Homo sapiens: one gene and its partners. The protein of the gene in region 1 purifies or fractionates together with the protein of each later gene. This does not show direct contact. Each region holds a gene or a part of one and is shown in the gene's direction. Other genes may lie near its edges.

Region 1 (3,500 bases):
GGCGGGAGTGGGACCACGTGAGCGGGGCCGGCTGGGGCTGCGGATGTCCCCGCCGCCGCCGCCGAGCTACGTGCGGCAGCTGTGTTCCCAGCGGCTGCGCGCCCCTGCCCCGGTCGCCCCCCCCACCCCGGCAACCTGCTCCTCCTTGCAAAGTGGAACTGGGGGAGAGGGAGTGGAGACCAGCCCCGCCGCCCTGAAAGGGGAAGTGAACCAACTGACTGTCCGGCACCCAGCCGTGGGATGTTCCCCCTTCCCTCCTGCCGCCTCCCCGCCTGTGCCTTGCAAGATGGCGACACGGCGGCATGTTCCCTGGAGGGGCGCGAGCCCCAATCCCGTGGTCTGCTCCAGCCGCGCTCCCACAGCCAGACCCCGTCCCCAGACTGAGGCCCTTGGGAGCTGTCAGGGCCCAGTGGTTGAGATGGGAGTGGGGTCCCTTCCAGGGCTGCTCTGCGCCTCTTGCTTGGGTTGTAGACGGCCCCCAGCTGGGGCGGACCCGCGACCCCAGCTGCATCCTGGGTTGCTTGGGGGAGACTTGGGGTGTGGAGCAGGCAGCCCCAGGGATTTGAGGCTACTGTTGGTCTTGGTGACAGCTGGTCTCTCCCCCTCTCCAGCTGCCTGGATTCACAACCTCTTGGGGAGGGGGGCTGCTGGTCTCTGTCTGCAGTCTTGTTTTGCTGAGGGTGTCGGGGTGTGGCAGGGAGGAAGGATGAGATGAGAAGGGAAGGTTTTTTCTTCCAGCTCTTCTTGGGTCACGGGTGATCGCTGGTGCCCCTCAGTGGGCAGACCCCTCCACCCTCCCGTGCCCCTCCTCAGCTGGGCTCCCCAGGGCAGCCCCTGATCTTAGAGCAGAGATGTCACTCGGTCACCCTGAGCATGGCCGTGCCCCTCCCGCCGTCTCTGTACCCCTCACCATGGTCCCTGCTGTGGGTCCTTCTAGGCCCCTGGCTGGCTGCAGTTCTTCATGGACCGGTGGGAGTGCTCCCAGGGCCAGAGCAACCTCCAGTGCTGGGCGTGGGCTGCCCAGTTTGTAACCCACCGGGTGACTACCCTCCTGGCCCTGCTGTGGCTTCCTTGAGAATAGGCTTTGGGGCCACTCAGGGGAGTTGGTTCTGACGTCTCTTTTGCTACTCAGGGCTCCAACCAGTGCCACGAGGGGCATGCACATCCGGTCTCCATCCACACAACCCACCCTGGGGTGTCACGGGAATAACGTCCCGGAATGCCAGGGTCCAGGGTACCTGGTGCAGGGCCCGAAAGGGTGGGAGCTTCGGGGATGCAGGGCCCTTTGTCCTGCTTCGGTCCCTGGGTGGAGGTGGACTGACCTGCCCCTCCCCAGTCGTTGGAGACCCCTATCTGCTGGGGAGACGCTGACATCACGATGCCACATGCTGTGGGCGTGAGACCCCGGCTAAAGGAAGGGGTCGGGTGGCACAGTTCTAGAGCAAAGACCCACACCGCCTGGAGGCGCACAGGCAGGCCCAGATGGTGACGGCTGGTTAGGGGCAGGATGGGCGAGGCCCGGCCTTGGCGGTGGGAGGGGACTGTGGAGGAAGTGGCCGGGTGGTGGCCCGCCCCTGCCCAGCGCCATCTGTCCCGTGGGGGTGGGGCGAGTCCAGCCCGCCGGGCCCCGCCCCTTCCCGGGAGACCCCGCCCCCTCCCCTCCCTGTGAGCTTTCCTGCCTGTCTTCCATCTAACCACACCCCGAGATCGGGGCCCAGACTGACTGTGCCTGCGGGTTCCTCCCATGCCCCCTTGCTCGTGGAGGGGCCAGGAGGGTTAGGGAGGTTGCCATGATTGTACCCCCTTAACCCAGCCTTTGCATCCCAGGTGGTCATTTGGAAAAGGAGGGGATCATGCACAGATGGAGGCCCCTGCATGCCCCTGGGTGGGGGGCAGGGACAGCCTGAAGGCCGAGCATGCCTTCTGAGCGTGCCTGTGCCTGGGACAGACACTGGGAGGCCTTTGCTAATCCCTGCCAGGGTCCCGCCTGGGGCCAGAGGCTGCGAGGGCCTGGGGAGCTTCAGCCTTGGGGGTCTGCGGCGGTTACTTACGGTTAACAGATTCTGGGCTCGCCGGAGAGTCCTTTCTAAGAGCTGGTAGGAAATAAGAGGATTATTTATTAGGGTCTCGTGTTGGGCCACCGGGGGGCGGGTAAGGGTTGTATTCTTTGTGCTTCTCCATGTTTTGAACTCACACCAGAGCTCAGCCTCTAAAACGGCACGGGACAAATGCCCGCCACCCTTTGGGATCTGCTGGAACGTGTCTGTCATCTCCCCCCGCCCCCGCTGACCCGCTGTCTGTCTCTGTCTCTCCGTCCAGGGGAACGCCCTTTTGCTTGTGACTGGCAGGGCTGCGACAAGAAGTTCGCCCGCTCCGACGAGCTGGCCCGCCACCACCGGACGCACACGGGCGAGAAGCGCTTCTCCTGCCCTCTGTGCTCCAAGCGCTTCACCCGCAGTGACCACCTGGCCAAGCACGCCCGCCGCCACCCCGGCTTCCACCCGGACCTGCTCCGGCGCCCTGGTGCCCGCAGTACCTCCCCCAGCGACTCGCTGCCCTGCAGCCTGGCCGGGAGCCCTGCGCCCAGCCCCGCGCCCAGCCCAGCCCCCGCAGGCCTGTAGGGCCCTCGTGCAGCCCACCCTGACCGCCAGGATGCTTCTGCCATCCAGGGGTGTAGTGAGGACCCACGGGGAGCCTGGGCCCCTTCCAGCCGTGGGCAAACCCTGAAGACACCCCTGCCCCCCTCCAGAGAGTGAGGAGGGGGCCTGAGACTGGACCTGGGTCTGCCTGACCTCAGAGGTGGCTCTCAGGATGGGTGACGGGGGCTTGTGTCTGTAAATAGCCATGATACTAACTTTCTTCCCATCTGTGCAACGGGGCCCCCCCAGGGCAGCTAGGAGGTCCTCCCCTCTCCTCTCCACCACCCCCTGCTGCCCCCCTCCCGGGGTGGGGTTTGGGGGGGTGGAGTGGACTTCTGGGAGCCGGCCCGGGGAAAGCACCCCCTGCCCCATCCCTGCAGATTGGGATGAAGTGTTCAGACAGCCATAGAGGAGTCGGGGGTTGACACGGCCCCTGCCTCTCCCCACCCCACCCCCACCCCACCGAAAGCCATGGGAGTAGTTCAGGGAAATGGGGGTGCAGCCCAGCCACCCCCCATTCGGGTACTCAATCTCAGGTGTCCACAAGTTCTGCCCACGGTAGGGGCTGCCTGGCCCCCCAGACCTCGGGGGTAGAGCCAGGAGTGGGGCAGCGTTAGGATGCCCGGAGGGGCTCCAGGTGTTGCTTCTGAGACCTGGGATGGGGAGGGAGGGGACCTCTGGGTTCTTCCAAAGAACATTTGACTCAGTGGGGTCGGGAGGGAATCCTGGCTTATTTATTTTCCTCTGTCCTCGGGTGTGGGGGCCCTAGCTCGCCCTCTCTGGGTGGGTGGGTGAGAGAGGCTGCAGGGGAGGCTGGCACCGGGCTTGGGCCTCCAGTCCCTGCCTTGCTGACTTTGGCCG
Region 2 (4,031 bases), on another chromosome or scaffold:
TCTCAGATGGCTCTGGGTTTTTTTTTTTTTTTTTTGAGACGGAGTCTCGCTCTGTCGCCCAGGCTGGAGTGCAATGGCACGATATCGGCTCACTGCAACCTTCGCCTCCTGGGTTCAAGCAATTCTCCCACCTCAGCCTCCTGAGTAGCTGGGATTACAGGAGTACGCCACCACACCTACCTAATTTTTGTATTTTTAGTAGAGATGGGGTTTCACCATGTGGGTCAGGCTGGTCGCAAACTCCTGACCTCGTGATCCACCTGCCTCGGCCTCCCAAAGTGCTGGGATTACAGGTGTGAGCCACCACGCCCAGCCGGCTCTGTGCTTTTGAATTCATAACTTGAGAGGATGGCCTGATAGGAACCTGACCAGAGGTTATCTATGCAGTGCCATCCTTAATCACGGCCGGGTGCGGTGGCTCACGCCTGTAATCCCAGCACTTTGGGAGGGCGAGGCGAGAGGATCACTTGAGCCCAGGAGTTTGAGACCAGCCTGGGCAACATAGGGAGACCTCATCTTTACTAAATTAAAAAAAAGAAAGAAAGAAAAGAAAACCCTCAAGACTTTAAAGCACCCACGGACTAGCAACAGCTAGAAGCTTTATCACCACGAGGCCTGAAAGAACAAGGAGACGGAGCTGTTACCAACTAACAATTGCTGCTCAGGGAACTAACTGACAATACCAACTCCATGTTACAAGTGATGAAACTAAGGAGAATGAGAAGATAAGGAACACAGGATGTGGAATTCCGGGGGAAGAAATTTAGTGAATCTGAAGCATCCAGCGCCTACCAAGGCACTTTAGAGACTTCCCCCTGGAGGGTTAAGCCACCAGCCTCACCTTGACCTTCCCTGCCGCCCACTAAAAGTGACCGGAAGAGCTCGACTATGACGACTCGGGACTACAAGTCCCGGCATGCATCTCTCCGCGTCTATCGCAAAACCTTTCAACTTTAGGATAAAAGGGCTTTTGGCAACCTTGAGCGTCGGGACCTGTAGTCGCCCCAGTTGGGGCTAGACGCTTGCCGTAGGGAACTCATTGGCGCCCAGGGCACCACCCCCTCGCCTTCGCCTCACGTAGCTTCACCAGCTCGCAAACACGGCGCGTGCCCACGCCCTCCGCCCCCTCCCCGGGCCTAGGGCGCAGGCGCGCGCAAGCTCCCCGGGCCCAGTAGGCTGGGGGTGGGGGTAGAAGGAGAAGGAGGGGAAGGGAGGGGGGGGTTGGGTGTCTACTCTGGTGAATAGACGGCTGTGGGGCAGAGAAGCGTGAAGGCCTGGCTGCCGGGCAGGTGAACTCTCCACGGGGTCTAGGGCCCGCGAAAGGGTTCGGAACCGAGTCAGCGCGCCTTGCGGGCAGGATTCACGCCGCTGTGACCCGGAGGTCCTCAGGGGGCGAAGCCCCGGCCTAGGCCTCGCGGAGATGCCCAGCTGCGGTGCTTGTACTTGCGGCGCGGCGGCCGTCCGGCTCATCACCTCCTCACTCGCCTCCGCGCAGAGAGGTAACGAAATAGTGCCACTCCTGAGCCCTCAGCCTGTCGGGGGGGGGGTGGACTGGCCAATGGTTGGGGGCCCCGGGGAGGGCACGAGGCCTGCTGCACCCGGGGAGTGTGAGGGAATGCGCGGCGCTTCGCCCGGCACCCACCACTTTCCCCGTGGAATGGGGCTCTGCCAACCTCTGGAGCAGCCGTTGCTCAAATTGGAAGTAAACTCCTTCCCACGCGCCTGCCTGCACGCTTTCAGGCCTGCTGACTTTGGGGCCGGAATGCGGCCACTTTGTAGAAACCCTGAAAGGCACAAAATGCTCCTGTTATTAAAAAATGTCTCCAGATCCCACTCAGCCCTGCCGGGGACCGCCGCCTGCCATGGCTGCGGCTCTTCTTCCGCAGCCTGGCCGGGATCCCCCTCGGGCCCGTTGGGGGCTCCAGGAGGGGCTCGGCTGAGGATCTGTCCCTACTAGGGTCCCCCAGGACTCGGGGCACCCAGCTGGCCGTCCCGGACGCAAGCCGCGCGATACCCGAGATGTTACTATCACTGTGCGGCCCTGACACTGGGACATAAACAAGGTTCACAATACTTCCCGGCGTCAGGCAAGCCCCGGGGCCCGCAGGACAGCGGCGGGAGAGATGGGGAGAAGTCCCGCAGGAGTTGGTTCGGAAGTACTTGGGTGTTTCAGCAGTCCTTTGCTGGCTTTCCCAACTTGACCGGGAGGTAGTTTCCTAAGAGTGGCGCATGTTGTTTACCTTTTCTTTCTGTTTATCTGAAGCTGTGAAAGAATGGCGCCCCAGCCAAGAGAGTCTGGAAAATAAACTTTTTTTCTCTTCCTCAAATCTGTGGAAGTCAGACCACGAGGCTAGATCCTGTTATAATGACTGACTTCTAGACAAATTCGTTTTATTTTGGCTTATCGGTTTATGACCCTTGGATGGATTTTTAAAAAGGCCCCTTTTATCTAACTTCTAAGCCAATTATAAAATCCTTATTGTTTACTAAATATATCTTCCAGTTTCTTTACTACAGAAGGAAGGATTGAATGAGGTAACGTGGGCAGAAGCATTTTGTAAAATGATATATAAATGTAAGGGAGTAAATTTAATCCTAAATCGATGTTAAGCCTCAACCAGTAGATGTCCCGATTCCAGGAATTCGATTTGCAAACACTTTAAAGTGACATATTTTAATCCATTTATCTGATATATATTAATATTTGTCAAGGGTCCACTGTGTGTCAGGCCTTCTTTTAGTGCTGGAGGTAGAGTGGTGAATAAGTCCTCACCCTCATGTTTAAATCTAGTGGAGTAGACAAAGAATAATACAGTTTCCAGTGGGTGGATGAAGTATGTGTGTGTTCCCTTTGGTCAGGGACGGCTTCTTTGAAAGTGTTACTGATCTCTTGTAGCCAAGAGTCCGTGAACATTTTTGAATCATAGGAGATAGGCAGTTATTTTTTTTTCTTTTCAAAACGACTGTTTTCTTTCTTTTTCTTTTCTTTTCTCCTTCCTTCCTTCCTTCCTTTCCTTCCTTCCTGTCTTTCTTTCCTTTCTGTCTTTCTTTCCATCTACTATCTGTCTTTCTGTCTGTCTTATTTTCTTTCTTTTTTTTTTTTTTTTTTTTTTGAGACAGAGTCTCGCTCTGTCGCTCAGGCTGGAGTGCAGTGGCCAGATCTCAGTTTACTGCAAACTCCGCCTCCTGGGTTCACGCCATTCTCCTGCCTCAGCCTCCCGAGTAGCTGGGACTGCAGGCGCCCGCCACCACGCCTGGCTAATTTTTGTATTTTTAGTAGAGACGGGGTTTCACCGTGTTAGCCAGGATGGTCTCGATCTCCTGATCTTGTGATCCGTCCGCCTCGGCCTCCCAAAGTGCTGGGATTACAGGCGTGAGCCACCGCGCCTGGCCTCTTTTTGTGTGTCTGTCTTGATGGAATCTGCTAAGTTGCCCGGGCTGGAGTGCAGTAGCGCGATCTCGGCTCACTGCAACCTCCGTCTCCTGGGTTCAAGCAATTCTTCTGCCTCAGCCTCCTGAGTAAGCTGGGGTTACAGGCGCGCGCCACCACGCCCCACTAATTTTTATATTTTTAGTAGAGACGGGATTTTGCCATGTTCGTCAGGCTGGACTCCAACTCCTGGACCCCAGGAGATCACCCGCCTTGGCCTCCCAAAGTGCTAGGATTACAGGCTTGAGCCACCGCACCCGGACTAGTATTTCTTTTTAAAAACAGTTGTTCTGAAATTTAGAAAGCTTTGTCTGTATGATAAAGTTCTGTAAATAGTGAAACTTAAATTGTCTTTTCTGGTTGCTGCCAGGTAATCTGGTGAAATATACTTTACAGAAACACTTCTCTTTTTTGGCTTTCAGAGCTTCACCTGGGGTTTACAGGCCTCCAAAGGGTCCTTGAATAGAATTCAGAGATTCTGTGAACTTTATTTTCACTAAGCTCTAACTGAAACACAACGTTTCCTTGGCCTATGAATGTGGGCAACACATCCACAGTAGTCTTAGAAGTGTCTGTGGATTTGTCATCAATCAAAATCAGA
Region 3 (3,226 bases), about 15 Mb from region 1:
CTGGTCTGGCTTTGGTCTGATTTGGTTTGGTTTTGGTTTGGTCTGATTTGGTCTGGTCTGGTTTTGGTCTGGTCTCATCTGGTCTGGTGTGGTTTGGTTTTGATTTGGTCTGATTTGGTCTGCTCTGATCTGGTCTGGTCTGGTCTGGTTTGGTTTGGTTTTGATTTGGTCTGATTTGGTCTGGTCTGGTTTGGTGTGGTTTTGGTTTGGTCTGGTCTGGTCTGGTTTTGGTCTGGTCTGGTCTGATCTGATCTGGCCTGGTTTGGTTTGGTTTTGGTTTGGTCTGATCTGGTCTGTTTGGTCTGGTTTGGTTTGGTTTTAGTCTGGTCTGGTCTGGTTTTGGTATGGTCTAATCTGGTCTAGTTTGGTTGGTTTTGGTTTGGTCTGGTTTGGTGTGGTTTGGTCTGATCTGATCTGGTCTGGTTTTGGTCTGGTCTGATTTGATTTGGTCTGGTTTGGTTTGGTTTTAGTCTGGTCTAGTCTGGTCTGGTCTGGTTTTGGTCTGGTCTAATCTGGTCTAGTTTGGTTGGTTTTGGTTTGGTCTGATCTGATCTGGTCTGGTTTTGGTCTGGTCTGATTTGATTTGGTCTGGTTTGGTTTGGTTTGGTTAGGTTTTGGTTTGGTCTGGTTTGGTCTGGTCTGGTCTGGTTTTGGTCTGGTTTGGTTTGGTTTTGGTTTGGTCTGGTCTGGTTTAGTTTGGTCTGATCTGGTCTGGTCTGGTTTGGTTTTGGTTTGGTCTGGTCTGGTTTTGGTCTGGTTTGGGTCTGGTCTGGTCTGGTCTGTTTGGTCTGGTCTGGTCTGGTCTGGTCTGTCTGGTCTGGTTTGGTCTGGTCTGGTCTGGTCTGTTTGGTCTGGTCTGGTCTGGTTTTGGTCTGGTTTGGGTCTGGTCTGGTCTGGTTTTGGTCTGGTTTGGGTCTGGTCTGGTTTGGGTCTGGTCTGGTTTGGTCTGGTCTGGTCTGTTTGGTCTGGTCTGGTTTGGTCTGGTCTGGTCTGTTTGGTCTGGTCTGGTTTGGTCTGGTCTGGTCTGTTTGGTCTGGTCTGGTTTTGGTCTGGTTTGGGTCTGGTCTGGTCTGGTTTTGGTCTGGTTTGGGTCTGGTCTGGTTTGGTCTGGTCTGGTCTGTTTGGTCTGGTCTGGTCTGTTTGGTCTGGTCTGTTTGGTCTGGTCTGGTCTGGTCTGGTCTGGTTTGGTTTTGGTTTGGTCTGGTCTGGTTTTGGTCTGGTTTGGGTCTGGTCTGGTCTGGTCTGTTTGGTCTGGTCTGGTCTGGTCTGTTTGGTCTGGTCTGGTCTGGTCTGGTCTGGTCGGTTCGGTCTGGTCTGGTCTGGTTTGGTCTGGTCTGGTCGGTTTGGTCTGGTCTGGTCTGTTTGGTCTGGTCTGTTTGGTCTGGTCTGGTCTGGTCTGGTCTGGTCTGTTTGGTCTGGTCTGGTCTGTTTGGTTTGGTCTGGTCTGGTCTGGTCTGTTTGGTCTGGTCTGGTCTGGTCTGGTCTGGTCTGTTTGGTCTGGTCTGCCCACAGCCTGTCAGGATTCTGGTCTCTTCATCCCTGTGTCATGCACTCTCCATCCTGATGTGTTTCTGGCCTTTGTCGACTTCCTCTGTGGGTGAGGTGGGGACTCCCGCAGGAGGCGGGGTGGCCGCACCACCTGCTTTCCTCCCGCCAGCTGCACCACCTCGTGAGCGATGACGTCTGCCTGAAGGTGGTGGAGCTCTACCTGAACGAGAAGAAGCGGGGTGCCGCTGGTGGGAACCTGTCCTCCCGCTGCGTCCGCGCTGCTAGGGAGACCAGCTACCAGTGGAAGGCTGAGCGCTGCATGGCCGACGAGAACTGCTTCAAGGTGAGAGGAGGCCTGGGGCTGGGAACACGCCGGGAGGCCCGGCCGCTCACTCCGCTCTGGACTCAGTCCTGGGTGGACCCTGGTTCAGCGGCTGGGACACCGGCCCTGCTGCAGAGCCCATGAGGTACCTTTGACCTGCAGGAAGCATCAGGGCTTTGGGAGGGTGGCAAAGGCGGGAGGCGGGTGGCCTTGCGAGCCTGCGCTGTGCCGGCTGGGCTGTGCCGGCAGTGGAGGCTGTCAGCGTTCCTGCTCCGCAGGTGATGTTCCTGCAGCGCAAAGGGCAGGTGATCATGACCATCGAGCTCCTGGACACCGAGGAGGCCCAGACGGAGGACCCTGTGGAGGTCCAGGTGAGGCCCTGGCCCCAGTCTGTGCCACGCATACCAGGGAGCGCCTGAGGGCAGCAGCATGGGGCTCCCACCAGCCAAGCGCAGGCCGCGCAGCATCCAGAGACCCTCCCTCTGCAGGCCACAGGCTCTCCTTGAGGCCTGGTGGGTGGGGTTGCCTCCCTCCCTGCTCCCCCACCAGGCTCTCTTCTGTGCCCCCTCTCCAAAGAGCAGACCACTCCTCCTGAGCAAGCGGTTGTGTCCCAGGGCAGGAGGGGAACCAAGCCACCTCTCCCTGGCCCCCGACTCCCACTCAGGGCATCCCGTGGCTGTGACCTCTGCACCTCTTGTGTCAGGGCTGCATCCTGTTCCTAATCCCCAGCAGAGGAGCCACCTGGGCCCAGCTCCCAGTCACAATTTTTGCGGGGACAGATGTTTCCTGCTCACCTCCCGCATCCTGGTGACAGTGAGGCATTGACCCGTGTGTGTCCCCAGGGTGGTCATTGGGGCCTGCAGCTCCCGGCACCTGCCAACAGGTCCAGTGTGTGTGCACATTACTCAGCTAGGCCAACCCCATTCATTTCCTGGGGCTACCACCACAATGACCACAAACCACGTGGCTTCAAACAACAGAAGTCTATTCCCTCAACGTCCTGGAGGTCAGCAGTCCACAACCACAGTGTGGGCCGGGCGGTGCTCCTGCCAAAGGCTCTGGGGCGGATCCTTCCTGCTCTTCCAGCTTCCGGGGGCTTCTGGCGCTCCTCAGCTGTGGCCTGGTTGTGTGAGTCCCGCTGTCACTGGGTCCTCTGTCAAGAGCTATAGTCTGTTGGGGTCTCCGTCAGGGATCAGAGTCCTCTGCAGCGGCTCTCCTCATGCTCTGGCAGTGGGGGGCACAGAACCCCTGTGAGCTCCTGAACTCAGAGTCCAGAGTAAGAGTGGCCATAGCCCTGCTGTAGGGGCATCACGGGCTGTGTCTCTCCCTGTCCCCAGCACCTGGCTCGGTACGTGGAGCAGTATGTGGGGACCGAGGGCGCGTCCAGCTCGCCCACTGAGGGCTTCCTCCTGAAAC
Region 4 (3,500 bases), on another chromosome or scaffold:
ACTCCTTTACCATGTCCACTTGTGTTTCTGCCTTACCAGCTCACGGATGATTGATATCCAGACCAGGATGGCTGGGCGAGCATTGGAGCTTCTTTATCTGCCAGAGAATAAGCCCTGTTACCTGCTGGATATTGGGTGAGATTCTGGGGCCTGGTTCAGATTGTCTAAGGTGGTGAAGTGTCTTTGTAAACTGACCCTGAGTGTCTGGTCATGTCTTCCAGCTGTGGCACTGGGCTGAGTGGAAGTTATCTGTCAGATGAAGGGCACTATTGGGTGGGCCTGGATATCAGCCCTGCCATGCTGGGTAAGTATGTCCTGTCTGGCACCAGGGTGGATTACCCTGATGGGTGTGGAGAAGCCACAGGTATTTCTCTTTCTCTGACTGCCTTTTCTCTAATGTAGATGAGGCTGTGGACCGAGAGATAGAGGGAGACCTGCTGCTGGGGGATATGGGCCAGGGCATCCCATTCAAGCCAGGCACATTTGATGGTTGCATCAGGTGAGGGTCTTTAATTCCTGCTTTTATTTATTTAGAGACAGGGTCTCACTCTATCACTTAGGCTCTAGTGCAGTGTCTGTGATTATGGCTCACACTGCAGCCTCCACCTCCTGGGTTCAGGTGATCTGCCCACCTCAGTCTCCTGAGTAGCTGGGACTACAGGCCCACACCACCGTACCTAGCTAATTTTTTGTTTTTTTGAGATGGAGTCTTGCTCTGTCACCAGGCTGGAGTGCAGTGGTGTGATCTTGGCTCACTGCAGCCTTCGCCTCCCAGGCTCAAGCGATTCTCCTGCCTCAGCCTCCCAAGTAGCTGAGATTACAGGAGCACGCCACCACACCCAACTAATTTTTGTATTTTTAGTGGAGGTGAGGTTTCACTATGTTGGCCGGGATGGTTTCAATCTCTTGACCTTGTGATCCACCCTCCTCGGCCTCCCAAAGTGCTGGGATTACAGGTGTGAGCCACCGTGCACAGCCTAACTTTTTTTGTATTTGTTGTAGAGATGGGTTTTTGCTATGTTGCTCAGGCGATCCACACACCTGGGCCTCCCAAAATGCTGGGATTATAGGTGTGAGCCACCCTGGCCTCTTTCTTCCTGCTTTTAGTCCTGCAAGCCAGTGCCTCCCAAACCTGGCTGTGCAGCAGACTCATGCAGATATTTACAAATACACATCCCATGGGATTTTCAGATTTACAAGGTTAGAGCAAGGCCCAAGAGTGTATTTTTTTGGATTCTAAAACTTTGCAGTCTGGCCAACATGGTGAAACCCAGCCTCTACTAAAAAGCCAGACGTGGTTGTTGTTTTTTTTTTTTTGAGATGGAGGCTCTCTCTGTTGCCCAGGCTGGAGTGCAGTGGCGGGATCTCGGCTCACTGCAAGCTCCGCCTCCCGGGTTCAAGCCATTCACCTGCCTCAGCCTCCCAAGTACTTGGGACTGCAGGCGCCCACCACCACGCCCAGCTAATTTTTTTATATTTTTAGTAGAGACGGGGTTTCACCATGTTAGCCAGGATGGTCTCAATCTCCTGACCTCATGATCCGCCCTCTTCAGCCTCCCAAAGTGCTAGGATTACAGGCGTGAGCCACCGCGCCCAGCCTAAAAAGCTAGACATGGTGGTGGCCACCTGTAGTCCCAGCTAGCTACTCAGGAAGCTGAGGTAGGAGAATTGCTTGAACCCGAGAGGCGGAGGTTGCAGTGAGCCGAGTCCACGCCATTGCACTTCCAGCCTGGGTGACAGAGCAACACTTCATCTCAAAAATAAAACTTGTCTACTATTGCGATTATTTTGCATTGCCGGGTTCGGGCACCACTGGTACAGATTCTGTGTCAGCTTTGTGTGTCTGGTGGGGCAGAGGAGGTGGTCTTTTAGTCTCTAGCGGCCATTTTATGGGCCCCAGCCATCTTGTGGGCCCCAGCAGCCATCTTACTTTATTTGCCAACAGATAACTGGTAGAGAGCGTCTGGACTTGCTCTAATCTCTTAAGTGCTTCACAGTCCTTTCTCTGTAATCAGAGTCGGGTTAAACATCCACATAGCACTTCAATAACAGATCTTAGAATGTTAAAATTGATTAAGTTTTTCTTAGGCTGCTGTGATCAGTTCTGTTTAGTTTTTGGTGTGGTGTGGGAGTGAAAGTGAGAAAATAGGGGAGGAAGTTACAAATCATTACTTGCAGGGGAGACTTCCTTTGGTTACCCTAAGTTGAGTGGTGGGGATGTGAAGTGGGGAGCCAGGTGAGAGGTAAAAATTCAGATTAGAAGATTTTCCTTTTACATCTGGGAACAAGACCCAGGGGGGTTGGGGAATAATTTCAAGGGTAGCAGATGCTTTTTGGTAATGGTCAGATGAGGTGTTTTAAGCTGTGAAAAACCGAAGGCCAGCAGTATGGTCTGTATGTTTCGGAAGGGGATGGTCAGTTTTTGTTTGTCTTCGGGGAGAGGTGAGATGGTATAGCAAACTGTTTTTTTGGAGACGGATTCTTACTGTATTGTCCAGACTGGAGTGCAGTGGCACGATCTCGGCTCACTGCAACCTCTGCCTCCTGGGTTCAAGCGATTCTCCTGCCTTAGCCTCCTGAGTAGCTGGGATTACAGGTGCTCACCACCATGCTTGGCTAATTTTTGTATTTTAGTAGAGATGGGGTTTCACCATGTTGGCCAGGCTGGTCTTGAACTCCTGACTTCATGAACTGCCCGCCTCAACCTTCCAAAGTGTTGGGATTACAGGCGTGAGCCACCGCACCCGGCCCAGACTTTTTTTTTTTTTTTAAACATTTGCTACATGTAAGGCGTACAAGGTGCTGTGGAGTACAGGGAAATGAAACAGTTTCTGCGTGTAAGACTCTCCACGGTTTATTAGGTGCTTTAGGACATGGACCAGGCAACTGAATATAAGGGCATGAGTGGTGTGTGCCCTAGGGAGTCATGGGGCTGCCAGAGCACAGGAAAGCCTTGGGTGGAGGGGCTGCACCTTGAAGGCTGGGAGGAATTTGGATAGTCAAGGAGAGGGTTTCTGAGTGAGGGAACAGTGGGCAGAGGCACAGATGCCGGTGGGAAAGGGGTCTGAGATGAGAGGGATGAACGAGAGATTCCACGGAAGATGGGGTTGAGTGTGGTTGCTTCCTAGAAGGCACTTAAGTGTGTCCTAAGAAGTTTGGGCTTGATGGAGTAGATGATGGGGAGTTGGCAGGTGACGGGATCAGATGTGTGTTTAAGGAAGGTGATTTTCTGGTGAAAGAGGAGAGAGAGTTAGGTGGAAGCATTTGAGCTGGTAGCACTGAGCATTGGTGCGGGGAAGTGAAAGTTGGGAGAGGCTGTGGGACAAGCCAGTGGGGTGGAGGTAGGGCTCTGTGTGTGTACAGCAGGGCGGAGGGGAAGGGCAGGAAGGAAGACATAGTGACTGGTTGAGGTTTTATTTATTTATTTTTTGAGATGGAGTCTTGCTCTGTTGTCCAGGCTGGAGTACAGTGGCACAAGGCTTACTGCAACCTCTGCCTCC
Region 5 (3,500 bases), about 14 Mb from region 1:
TAGGGGTCTTTCTCTGTTGCTTGGGCTGTTGAACTAGCCTCAAGAGATCTTCCTGCGTTGGCCTCCCAGAGTACTGGGAGAAGGGTATAGAGATGACATTTTTTTTTTACTACTTTTTGCTTTTTTTTTTTTTCTTTTTGCTTTTTTTTCATCTTGTATGTTCTTCCAATGAACAGGTGACTTTTTTTAAAAAAAAAAAAAGAAACCTTCAGAGTGTGCGCTAGTGACTGAGGATCTTTTTCTTTTTTTTTTTTTTTATCCTTTGAGATGGAGTCTTGCTGTGTCACCCATCCTAGAGTGCAGTGGCACGATCTCAGCTCACTGCAACAGTCCACCTCCTGGGCTCAAGTGATCCTCCTACCTCCGCCTCCCAAGTAGCTGGAATTACAGGCGCCCGCCACCACACCCAGCTAATTTTTGTACTTTTAGTAGTGACGGGGTTTCACCATGTTGGCCAGACTGGTCTCAAACTCCTGACCTCAGGTGATCCACGCACCTTGGTCTCCCAAAGTGCTGGGAGTACAGGCATGAACCACCGCGCCTGGCCATGACTGAGGATCTCGAAGGGACTTGGAGGAATTCTCACGGGGAGGCAGAGGTGTAGCAGGGAAGCACACAGCTCATCAGTAGCTTCCTGACAGTGCTGTGTATGAGCCCCGGGAGATTGTCCCCTCCCCGCCTACGTAGGGGCTGTCTGCAGAAGCGGAGGTGTCTTCATGTTGCTTGTCAGAGGTCAGAAGCCAGGCATGTGGAGTTGGCAGAGGTGAAGTCCTGAGTGCCACAGGGCCTGCACCCCTACACCAGAAGGGGCAGGAGCCTCCAGGAGAGAGCCAGGGAGGGAGCACCCCAGTGTGGTGGCCTGGGGGCCTGCAGGCTGCTCTCCCTTGCCATGCAGCGTGGTTGCATTTGGGGAGACTTTGAAAGCCTGTGACAAAGAAGCCTCACTTTTTATCTGTAGAATTTGATGTGACATGTCTTTACGTGTAGTCTCATGGCAGAACTGATACTGGGTTTTGTGTTTTGAATTGTGCGAGGTGTTTTGTCTGCACGTAAAATGAGGTTGCCTTATGTCATCCCAGTTCCTGCAGAGAGGAACTCATCTGAGAAGCTGTGAAGCTAGATGCTGGGCCCCAAGAGCTGCCAGCCAGAGCCTAGGGCGTCCCCAGTTCCAAGCAGTTGCAGCTTTCTGGTGTTTTCTCAGGGGCTTTGGGGCCAGAGGGGCTGCAGTGCCAGCAGATTACTATGCGAGTCATTTTCCTGAGATACCTGCAAGCCTGTGTTCCCATTCTTCAGCTGGGGAAGTTTGGGTAACTGCCATTCTGTTGCCCTTTGGGAAGTCGGAACTCTTGGTTCAGCAGCCACTTTCCCTGGCTGAGTGCGGTGGCATGCACCTCTAATCCCAGCTACTTGGGAGGCTGAGGTGGGAGGATCGCTTGAGCCCAGGAGTTTGAGAACAGCCTGAGCAATACAGTGAAATCTCATCTCGAGAAAAAGAAAAGTCTGGGTGCGGTGGCTCACGCCTGTAATCCCAGCACTTTGGGGAGGCTAAGGCAGGTGGATCACCTGAGGTCAGGAGTTCGAGACCAGCCTAGCCAACATGGTGAAACCCTGTCTCTACTAAAAATACAAAAAAAAAATAGGCTGGGCGCGGTGGCTCACGCCTTTAATCCCAGCACTTTGGGAGGCTGAGGTGGGTCAATCACGAGGTCAGGAGTTCGAGACCAACCTAGCCACCATGGTGAAACCACGTCTCTACTCACAATACAAAAATTAACTGGGAGTGGTGGTGGGCGCCTGTAATCCCAGCTACTCGGGAGGCTGACGCAGGAGAATCACTTGAACCTGGGAGGCGGAGGTTGCAGTGAGCCAAGATCGCACCACTGCACTCCAGCCTGGGCAACAGAGGGAGACTCCGTCTCAAAAAAATAAATAAATAAAATAAAATAAAAATACAAAAATTTAGCCAGGCTTGGTGGCGGGCCCCTGTAATCCCAGCTACTCGGGAGGCTGAGGCAGGAGAATCGCTTGAACCTGGGTGTTAGAGGTTGCGGTTAGCTGAGATCGCACCATTGCACTCCAGCCTCGGCAACAAGAGCAAAACTCCATCTCCAAAAAAAAAAAAAAAAAAAGGAAAGAAAAAAAATTACTGAAAATCCTGTTTCTTTTTTTTTTTTTTTTTGCCCACTGCCAATTTATTTATTTATTTATTTATTTATTTATTTATTTATTTTTATTGATCATTCTTGGGTGTTTCTCGCAGAGGGAGATTTGGCAGTGTTTGTGTCCCTGGGTACTTGAGATTAGGGAGTGGTGACGACTCTTGGCATGCTGCCTTCAAGCATCTGTTTAACAAAGCACATCTTGCACCGCCCTTAATCCATTTAACCCTGAGTGGACACAGCACATGTTTCAGAGAGCACAGGGTTGGGGGTAAGGTCACAGATCAACAGGATCCCAAGGCAGAAGAATTTTTCTTAGTATAGAACAAAATGAAAAGTCTCCCACGTCTACCTCTTTCTACACAGACACAGCAACCATCCGATTTCTCAATCTTTTCCCCACCTTTCCCGCCTTTCTATTCCACAAAACCGCCATTGTCATCATGGCCCGTTCTCAATGAGCTGTTGGGTACACCTCCCAGACAGGGTGGTGGCTGGGCAGAGGGGCTCCTCACTTCCCAGTAGGGGCGGCCGGGCAGAGGCGCCCCTCACCTCCTGGACGGGGCGGCTGGCTGGGCGAGGGGGCTGACCCCCCCACCTCCCTCCCGGACGGTGCGGCTGGCCGGGCGGGGGGCTGACCCCCCCCACCTCCCTCCCGGACGGGGCGGCTGGCCGGGCAGGGGGGCTCCTCACTTCCCAGTAGGGGCGGCCGGGCAGAGGCGCCCCTCACTTCCCGGACGGGGCGGCTGGCCGGGCGGGGGGCTGACCCCCCCCCACCTCCCTCCCGGACGGAGCGGCTGGCCGGGCAGAGGGTCTCCTCACTTCCCAGTAGGGGCGGCTGGGCAGAGGCGCCCCTCACCTCCCAGACGGGGCGGCTGGCCGGGCGGGGGGCTGATCCCCCCACCTCCCTCCCGGACAAGGTGGCTGCCGGGCGGAGACGCTCCTCACTTCCCAGACGGGGTGGCTGCTGGGCGGAGGGGCTCCTTACTTCTCAGACGGGGCGGCTGCCGGGCGGAGGGGCTCCTCACTTCTCAGACGGGGCGGTTGCCAGGCAGAGGGTCTCCTCACTTCTCAGACAGGGCGGCCAGGCAGAGACGCTCCTCACATCCCGGACGGGGCGGCAGGGCAGAGGTGCTCCCCACATCTCAGACAATGGGCGGCTGGGCAGAGACGCTCCTCACTTCCCAGATGTGATGGCGGCCGGGAAGAGGCGCTCCTCACTTCCTAGATGGGATGGCGGCCGGGCAGAGACGCTCCTCACTTTCCAGACTGGGCAGCCAGGCAGAGGGGCTCCTCACATCCCAGACGATGGGCGGCCAGGCGGAGACGCTCCTCACTTCC
Region 6 (3,500 bases), on another chromosome or scaffold:
TGAATCTTTCGTGACTTTTACTATTGATGTTAAAGTTGTTAAAAATTTTTGTGGAATGATTTCATATTTAGAACAAATATGACATGTGGGAAACTAATCATGTTGGCTTGATAATGGAATCAGTTCTTAAGTAATTTTTATAGATGTTTAATAAATAACATTATTAAATGTTATAGATGTTTAATAATGTTATTTATTAAACATCTTATTTGTTTATTGTTATTTATTAAACAACTATTAAATGTTATTTAATAGTGTTATGTATGGTGTTAGTGATGCTTATTTTCATAATAGATAACTGAATATATTATGTGTATACATATGTATAAAACAATGTTTTATATATACATACACATAGATGTCTTAGAATGATTGAAACAGTTATGATTTTTCATTTTGAGAATTTTTAATATTTGGCAAGTGCAAGTAATTCTTTTTTGAGATGGAATCTTGCTCTGTCACCCAGGCTGGAGTGCAGTGGCACAATCTCGGCTCTCTGCAACCTCCGCCTCCCGGGTTCAAGCAATTCTTCTGCCTCAGCCTCCCGATTAGCTGGGACTACAGGTGTGCGCCACCACACCCGGCTAATTTTTTGTATTTTTAGTAGAGACGGGGTTTCACCATATTGGCCAGACTGGTCTCGAACTCCTGACCTCGTGATCTGTTCACCTCGGCCTCCCAAAGTGCTGGGATTACAGGCGTGAGCCACCACGCCCAGCCAAGTGCAAGTAATTCTAACAGCTTTTAGTGAAATTCCATGTCTTAAAAATTGTCAGTTTGAATATTTAAATTAAGTAGTGTATTCTGACATGAAGTTTGCTATCGTGTTAAGGAGAGAAAACATCTTTAATTGACTTCTGTGTCTTCACAGGAAGTTATTCACGTGAATTTATTTTGTTGCCTATAAAACACTATGCAATAACTTTTACCTTTTCCCCTTAACTCCCTCAAGTCCCACCAGAGCTATGTGAAGTTGCACTCATGTAAATTGTTATTAACTGTTTTGCAAACAACCTAATACTTGTAGTTCCCTTAATTTATATATATATTCAAGTATACCAACTGAATTGCCCTTTTCTTATAATAAATGTGCTTTCATTTCTAATAAACAACCTTCAAAGTAGTAGGAAAGATATTAACGTCTGAGCATAGGAGTTGATATGCTTTCTCATTGAGAAATTAGTCTCTAGAATTATAATCAATAACATGGTAAAGGAAAAAATGGCGAAAATATTAGAGCTGTGCCTAAAACTTTCCATAGTTTGAGCCTATGGCAAGTGAACATTTGGTTTTTATTACCCTTTTAAACACTAAATATTAATACATTATCTTATACAGAGGCCTTCAATAAATAAAATATTTATAGTAAACTACTGATGAAACACCTTTCATTATGGTAGAAATTCTTTTCAGATTACTGAGAAATGCAGTTCTCAAATTTCTGCGTAAGTTTTGCTTAATTCATTAAAGCATATGCAACTAACTTGCAACATACTTTTTTTACTGCTTGTATTAGAAATTCTTTTTGTACTTAATATTTGTTTAATTACTTGATCCATTAGTTCAATTGTAAATGACTTCCTTGTTGAATTTGTTCATTCAGTTTTCATGATCGTTTGAAGAGTAATCTAGACCAGTGTTATCCAGTAGAACTTTCCTGTGACAGTGGCAACAGTCCTGTATATGTGCTGTCTAATACAGTTGCAACTAGCCACATGTAGCCAATAAGCTCTTGCAGTGCGGTCAGTGTGACTAAGAAACTGAAGTTTTAATTTTATTTAATTATAACTGACTTAAATTTTTTAAGGCCACATGTTGCTAGTGGCTACTACATTGAATAGCACAGATATATCTACTTTATTTTCATTTAGTTTTCCAAGTTACAGTAAGTGTATTTTCTAGGTAAGTGTTCTAATTTTACAAACTCTTTGAAACCTATGGTAAAAAAAAATAATAATGCAAAAGCAAACTCTAAAAATTAATTTACTAAACTATTTGTATTTGATTTTTATTGCATTTATCTGAAACATTGGGTGGCTTTATTGAACATACCACAGACCATTTCTCCTCATTTCTGGAGACAGTTTCATTCTAAGGAGAAACATATGTCCTAAAGACCCATGAACTAATACTTATTTTGAGATTGGTCCATAAAAAGTTTTTGTTCATTTTTAAGCAGCTGATTTAGAAGAAAGTTTTAATGAACATGAACTGGAGCCCTCATCACCTAAAAGTAAAAAGAAAAGTCGCAAAGGAAGGCCAAGAAAAACTAATTTTAAAGGGCTGTCAGAAGATACCAGGTCCACATCCTCCCATGGAACAGATGAAATGGAAAGTAGTTCCTATGTAAGTAAAAAAAACTGTTGGATTCTTACTTTTGTTGCACCATGAATATTTCATTTAAACTATCTATAGGTAAAGTTCATCATTTGAAATGTTAAGTAAGCTTGAAATACCGATAGCATATTTTCATGATTTTTTTTAAGTTCGTTTTTTCTTTTACATTTGCAGAGAGATAGGTCTCCACACAGAAGCAGCCCTAGTGACACCAGGCCTAAATGTGGATTTTGCCATGTAGGGGAGGAAGAAAATGAAGCACGAGGAAAACTGCATATATTTAATGCCAAGAAGGCAGCTGCCCATTATAAGTGCATGGTAAGCATGGTTCTTTTAAGCCCAATTTTGTTTTTTTGTTGTTTGTTTTTCTTTGTTTCCCCTGTGATCTAAAGCCCAAATGATTTTTTTTTTAAAAATCATTTAGCTAGTAACCAAAAAATTTCCCCCCACCAGCATTAGTATTTTAGAGTTATAAACAGTATATCTTATAATCCCAAATCTTAAGTTTAGATTTTGTTAAATTATAGCCTTTATGTTTTAGTAGGATTTGAAGTAATTCTAATTATAGTTACTGTAGTTAGGATAATCTGTAATTAATTATTTCATAACTATAAAAATTTTGTCTTTATAAGCATGTCATGAAATATATTTTAGACTTTCACTATAACCTAATAATTATCTCTGTTGTACTTAACACTCTATATTACAATTATTCATTTATGAACTTATCTTCCCTAACAGACTCTTAAATTCCTTGAAGATAAGAATAAGTTTTTATCTTGACATCCTTAGGTCCATGCCTGACTTACAGTACACATAAATATCTTTGACTTAGATTGTATTGAATGACTCATCCCATTGATAAGGTTTTTAAAATTACATTATTTATGTCAGAGATTCTTAACCAGAGTGCATGTCAGATTTACCTGGTGAGCTTTTTCCGAAATATGTGCATCTAGGCACCCTGTGGAATAGATCTCGTATATGTCTAGTTTGAAAAAAAAAAATACGCGAGTGATTCTAATCTGCATCTATGGTTGAAATTTGCCAATTTAAACTATTTTTTAAAACTTTGTGGAAATGTAAAATAGTTGAGAATAGAGTGACATTGTTGAAATTTTCATTGCTTAAAGCAGGCTATTTAATCTTGGCTCCACACTGGC
Region 7 (3,500 bases), on another chromosome or scaffold:
AACATAATTGGTATAATGCCAATTATATATGGCTTTTTATCCTGCTAATTTTACTTAACATTATGTTTTGGGTTTTTTCCCCCATCAGTAAAAATTTTGGGTAAAAAAATATTTAATTGCTATTTAACTTATTCATTGAACAAATATTTCTTAAACAGCTATTGTGTGCCGGATCTTACTTTAGGCATGGGATACAGCAGTGACCAGAATTATGTCCTTACTCTCATGGAGTTTACATTCCAGTAGGATTAGGCTAATAAATGAGCAAATGAATATAAGCATCACCAAATAATAAATGTCATGAAGAATAAAGATATTCTATAGTGTCACTCTGTTTTTTAGTAAAGTCTTCCTAATTTACCTTCTTTAAAGGAGTGTATGAGTGTCTATCATTTTGTTATGTCATCAGTGAATATGATCATTTAAAAATTTATTTTGGTCAATAATGATAGTTCTTTGTAATATGCATGTCTGATTATTCAGGAAGTTGAACATTTTTAGATAGCCATGTACATTGCCTCTTCATTGAGTTTTCTATCCATGTTTTCTGTTTCTTTTCCTATTGAGGACCTGGTATTTTCTTCTATTTTGAACTCGCCCTTCATATTATTATTTTTTGGGACACTTACATTATGATGGATAGACAAATGTATACTCTTAAACAGTGGTACAGTGAGGCTGTAAGGAGTTAGAAAAACCAGAGGAAGCCTGGAATTCCCTTCCTCTCTTTCTGCCCCTCCCTCTTCCTTCTATTGCAATGAAGAAATAGTGATCAGAGAGGGAAGAAGTATAGGTTAGGTGGAAATACGTGAAGGAAGAAAGAAAGGTGGATGGATGTGTGGGTGGATGAGAAGATGAAGATGATGGAAATAGAAGGGAGAAGATGAGCTGAGGCCAGAGGAGAAGTGGTAAGGAGGAAGAGGAGTGAGTGGGAAAAAAAGGAGTGAGAGAGGATAAAAGAATGGAAGACAGAGTAATAGGGACATTACATGAAGACCATGGATAAATTATATTTTTTTCTCTTTCCGCCTCTACTAACCTAGCAAATCTCTAGAAGATGACGGTGTTCTTTAAAACGCTTCGAAATCACTGGAAGAAAACTACAGCTGGGCTCTGCCTGCTGACCTGGGGAGGCCATTGGCTCTATGGAAAACACTGGTAACTATCTGACAGCCCCATCCCACCTTTGCATCTGCAGCAAAACAGCCCCAAAGGGCCTCAGGTTAAAATCTTGCTCAGCTGTGCTTATCCCTATAAAACATGTGGTGTAAAAGAAAAATAAATGCTATTCAAAGCAAAAACAAAGACTTCTTGTAACCAGAGCTGGAACTACATGCATACTTATATCCAGTGGTTAGAGAATAAAGTAGAGACATCAGAAAGGAAGCTATTTTTATTCATTATATTTATAGTGGAAGAGATTAAGACATCTTAGAGAAAGAGAAGTCCTTTCCCAAGTTAGTAGTGTGAACCCCCAAAATCTGAGACAGGTCTTAGTCAATTTAGTAAGTTTATTTTGCCAAAGTTAAGGACGTGCGCCTGCGACACAGCCTCAGGAAGTTCTGATGACACGTGCCCAAGGTGGTCTGAGCGCAGCTTGGTTTTATACATTTTAGGGAGATATGACACATCAATCAATATACGTAAGATGAACATTGGTTTTGGTCTGGAAAGGTGGGACAACTTGAAACAAAGGCAAGACAACTGGAAGTAGGAAGGGAGCTTCCAGGTCATAGGTAGATAAGAGACAAATGGTTGCATTCTTTTGAGTTTCTGATTGGCCTCTCTAAAGTAGGCAATCAGATATGTATTTATGTCAGTGAGCAGAGGGGTGACTTTGAATAGAATGGGAGGCGGTGGGGCGCAGTGGCTCATGCCTGTAACTCCAGCACTATGGGAGGCTGAGGCAGGTGGATCATTTGAGGTCAGGAGACCAGCCTGGCCAACATGGTGAAACCCATCACTACTAAAAATACAAAGATTAGCTAGGCAGTAGTGGCGTGCACCTGTAGTCCCAGCTACTCGGGAGGCTGAGGCAGGAGAATCGCTTGAGCCTGGGAGGTGGAGGTTGTGGTGATCCCAGATCGGGCCACTGCACTCTAGCCTGGGTGAGGGAGTGAGACCCTGTCTCAAAAAAAAAAAAAAAAATAAAGAATGGGAGGCATGTTTGCCCCAAGCAGTTCCCAGCTTGACTGTTTTTCTTTAGCTTAGTGATTTTGGGGCCCCAAGATTTATTTTTCCTTTCACAGTAGTAAGCAAGTACTGGAACTCATGTCTCCCTGGCATTTTATTCCTTCCATTTCTTACTATAGTCTCTTGATCTGTCATCAAGGGACACTTACTGAATTTGTTCCTCCATCCCCTGTTACTATCCTCATCTGTCCCATTAGCCTACATTAATTTAAATGAGAAGTAGACTTTCAAACCTTTTGTTTAAATAAAGAATTCAGAGGAGTCATGGATTTTATTAGTCTTCCTGCATGGAGGGAGAAGAAAGTGCCAGAGCTCCTCTTTTAGTTTAATATGGTAATAAGATTTAAATAAACAGAGAAGTTTTTTTGTATAAAAATTATACAAAAGACAGCCAATCAAATTGCAGTCTTTTGGAGATTAAGGACTACATTTTAAGTATGTAGCAACACTGAAATCCAGATGTCTTAAATGACTGCTTTGTTGAACAGAAAACAGAACAGTTACTCTTTGAATTAGAAGTCTCCACATTGGAAAAGAGATTCATATTGATATTTTGTGAACACTCAATTCACCACTGTGAGAATAACTTTATGATATAACATGATGTCTGCTTTTTTTGCAGCTGTGGAAAAATTGCAATACATTCCCCTTCTTTTCTTTCTAAGTGTTGTCAAGGCCAGGCATTCAAATTCCATTAGCCAGCATCTAAGGAAAAAAGCAGACATAAGAAGCTTAAAATTTGTAATTAAGAAAAGGGTGGAGCGGATATTTTAACAAATGGAGCATGGAATGTTTGGCTTCTCCTTTTTCTAACTACACTTGAGTCCTCAAGGCCCCTTTGCTGGAGCATCCAATCTAGGCCATGGCTAGGTCAGTCGGGGAAAATTCCCACCCACTGAGGATTACTGCTGTTTCTACGACTAGGTGAAGATTTGAGGAACTGTGTACTCTGTTCAGGATGTCTTTAGAGGAACCATGATAAGTTCTTGCCCATGTAGCCTTGAGACCTTAAAAAAGGACCATTAAGTCTTCAGGACTAATGGAGGCCTTGTTCTAAATTGGATCTGAAACAGCTTGAGCCAGAAGTGTGGTGGCAGCCTGGAGGCCTCATTTTGCTCTGTCTTCACCCTTGACATTCAATGTTACTGCCCCAAATGCAAACTCTTGTTGTCCTATTGCTTTTCTTTTTCTCAGACTGTTCTCTTGCATGATTTGGTACTATTTAGCCTTTTTAAAAAATTGTGGTGAAAAAACACAGGACATAAACATTTTCACCTTAACCATTTGTAAATCTGCAGTTCGATGGT

The links.
Region 2: the proteins of KLF16 (region 1) and CLPX purify together in Homo sapiens (affinity purification with mass spectrometry; one large-scale study listed by BioGRID and IntAct). This does not show direct contact.
Region 3: the proteins of KLF16 (region 1) and SIN3B purify together in Homo sapiens (affinity purification with western blotting, with the first as the bait; one study listed by BioGRID). This does not show direct contact.
Region 4: the proteins of KLF16 (region 1) and BUD23 purify together in Homo sapiens (affinity purification with mass spectrometry; one large-scale study listed by BioGRID and IntAct). This does not show direct contact.
Region 5: the proteins of KLF16 (region 1) and AKAP8 purify together in Homo sapiens (affinity purification with mass spectrometry; one large-scale study listed by BioGRID and IntAct). This does not show direct contact.
Region 6: the proteins of KLF16 (region 1) and PHF6 purify together in Homo sapiens (affinity purification with mass spectrometry; one large-scale study listed by BioGRID and IntAct). This does not show direct contact.
Region 7: the proteins of KLF16 (region 1) and AGK purify together in Homo sapiens (affinity purification with mass spectrometry; one large-scale study listed by BioGRID and IntAct). This does not show direct contact.

The regions. Positions count from the first base shown.
Region 1 is NC_000019.10:1,853,580-1,857,079, reverse strand, and holds part of KLF16 (Krueppel-like factor 16), read left to right. Parts: intron 1-2,319; coding exon 2,320-2,621; 3' UTR 2,622-3,500. UniProt on the Homo sapiens protein: Transcription factor that binds GC and GT boxes and displaces Sp1 and Sp3 from these sequences. Modulates dopaminergic transmission in the brain.
Region 2 is NC_000015.10:65,182,543-65,186,573, reverse strand, and holds the start of CLPX (ATP-dependent clpX-like chaperone, mitochondrial precursor), read left to right. Parts: upstream 1-1,231; 5' UTR 1,232-1,420; coding exon 1,421-1,499; intron 1,500-4,031. UniProt on the Homo sapiens protein: ATP-dependent chaperone that functions as an unfoldase.
Region 3 is NC_000019.10:16,874,398-16,877,623, forward strand, and holds part of SIN3B (paired amphipathic helix protein Sin3b), read left to right. Parts: intron 1-1,657; coding exon 1,658-1,831; intron 1,832-2,088; coding exon 2,089-2,181; intron 2,182-3,147; coding exon 3,148-3,226.
Region 4 is NC_000007.14:73,686,597-73,690,096, forward strand, and holds part of BUD23 (18S rRNA (guanine-N(7))-methyltransferase), read left to right. Parts: intron 1-39; coding exon 40-135; intron 136-221; coding exon 222-304; intron 305-402; coding exon 403-499; intron 500-3,500.
Region 5 is NC_000019.10:15,362,788-15,366,287, reverse strand, and holds part of AKAP8 (A-kinase anchor protein 8), read left to right. Parts: intron 1-3,500. UniProt on the Homo sapiens protein: Anchoring protein that mediates the subcellular compartmentation of cAMP-dependent protein kinase (PKA type II).
Region 6 is NC_000023.11:134,411,312-134,414,811, forward strand, and holds part of PHF6 (PHD finger protein 6), read left to right. Parts: intron 1-2,176; coding exon of another isoform or gene 2,177-2,179; coding exon 2,180-2,346; intron 2,347-2,511; coding exon 2,512-2,655; intron 2,656-3,500.
Region 7 is NC_000007.14:141,554,410-141,557,909, forward strand, and holds part of AGK (acylglycerol kinase, mitochondrial isoform 1 precursor), read left to right. Parts: exon of another isoform or gene 1-908; intron 909-1,043; 5' UTR 1,044-1,057; coding exon 1,058-1,158; intron 1,159-3,500. UniProt on the Homo sapiens protein: Lipid kinase that can phosphorylate both monoacylglycerol and diacylglycerol to form lysophosphatidic acid (LPA) and phosphatidic acid (PA), respectively. Does not phosphorylate sphingosine. Phosphorylates ceramide.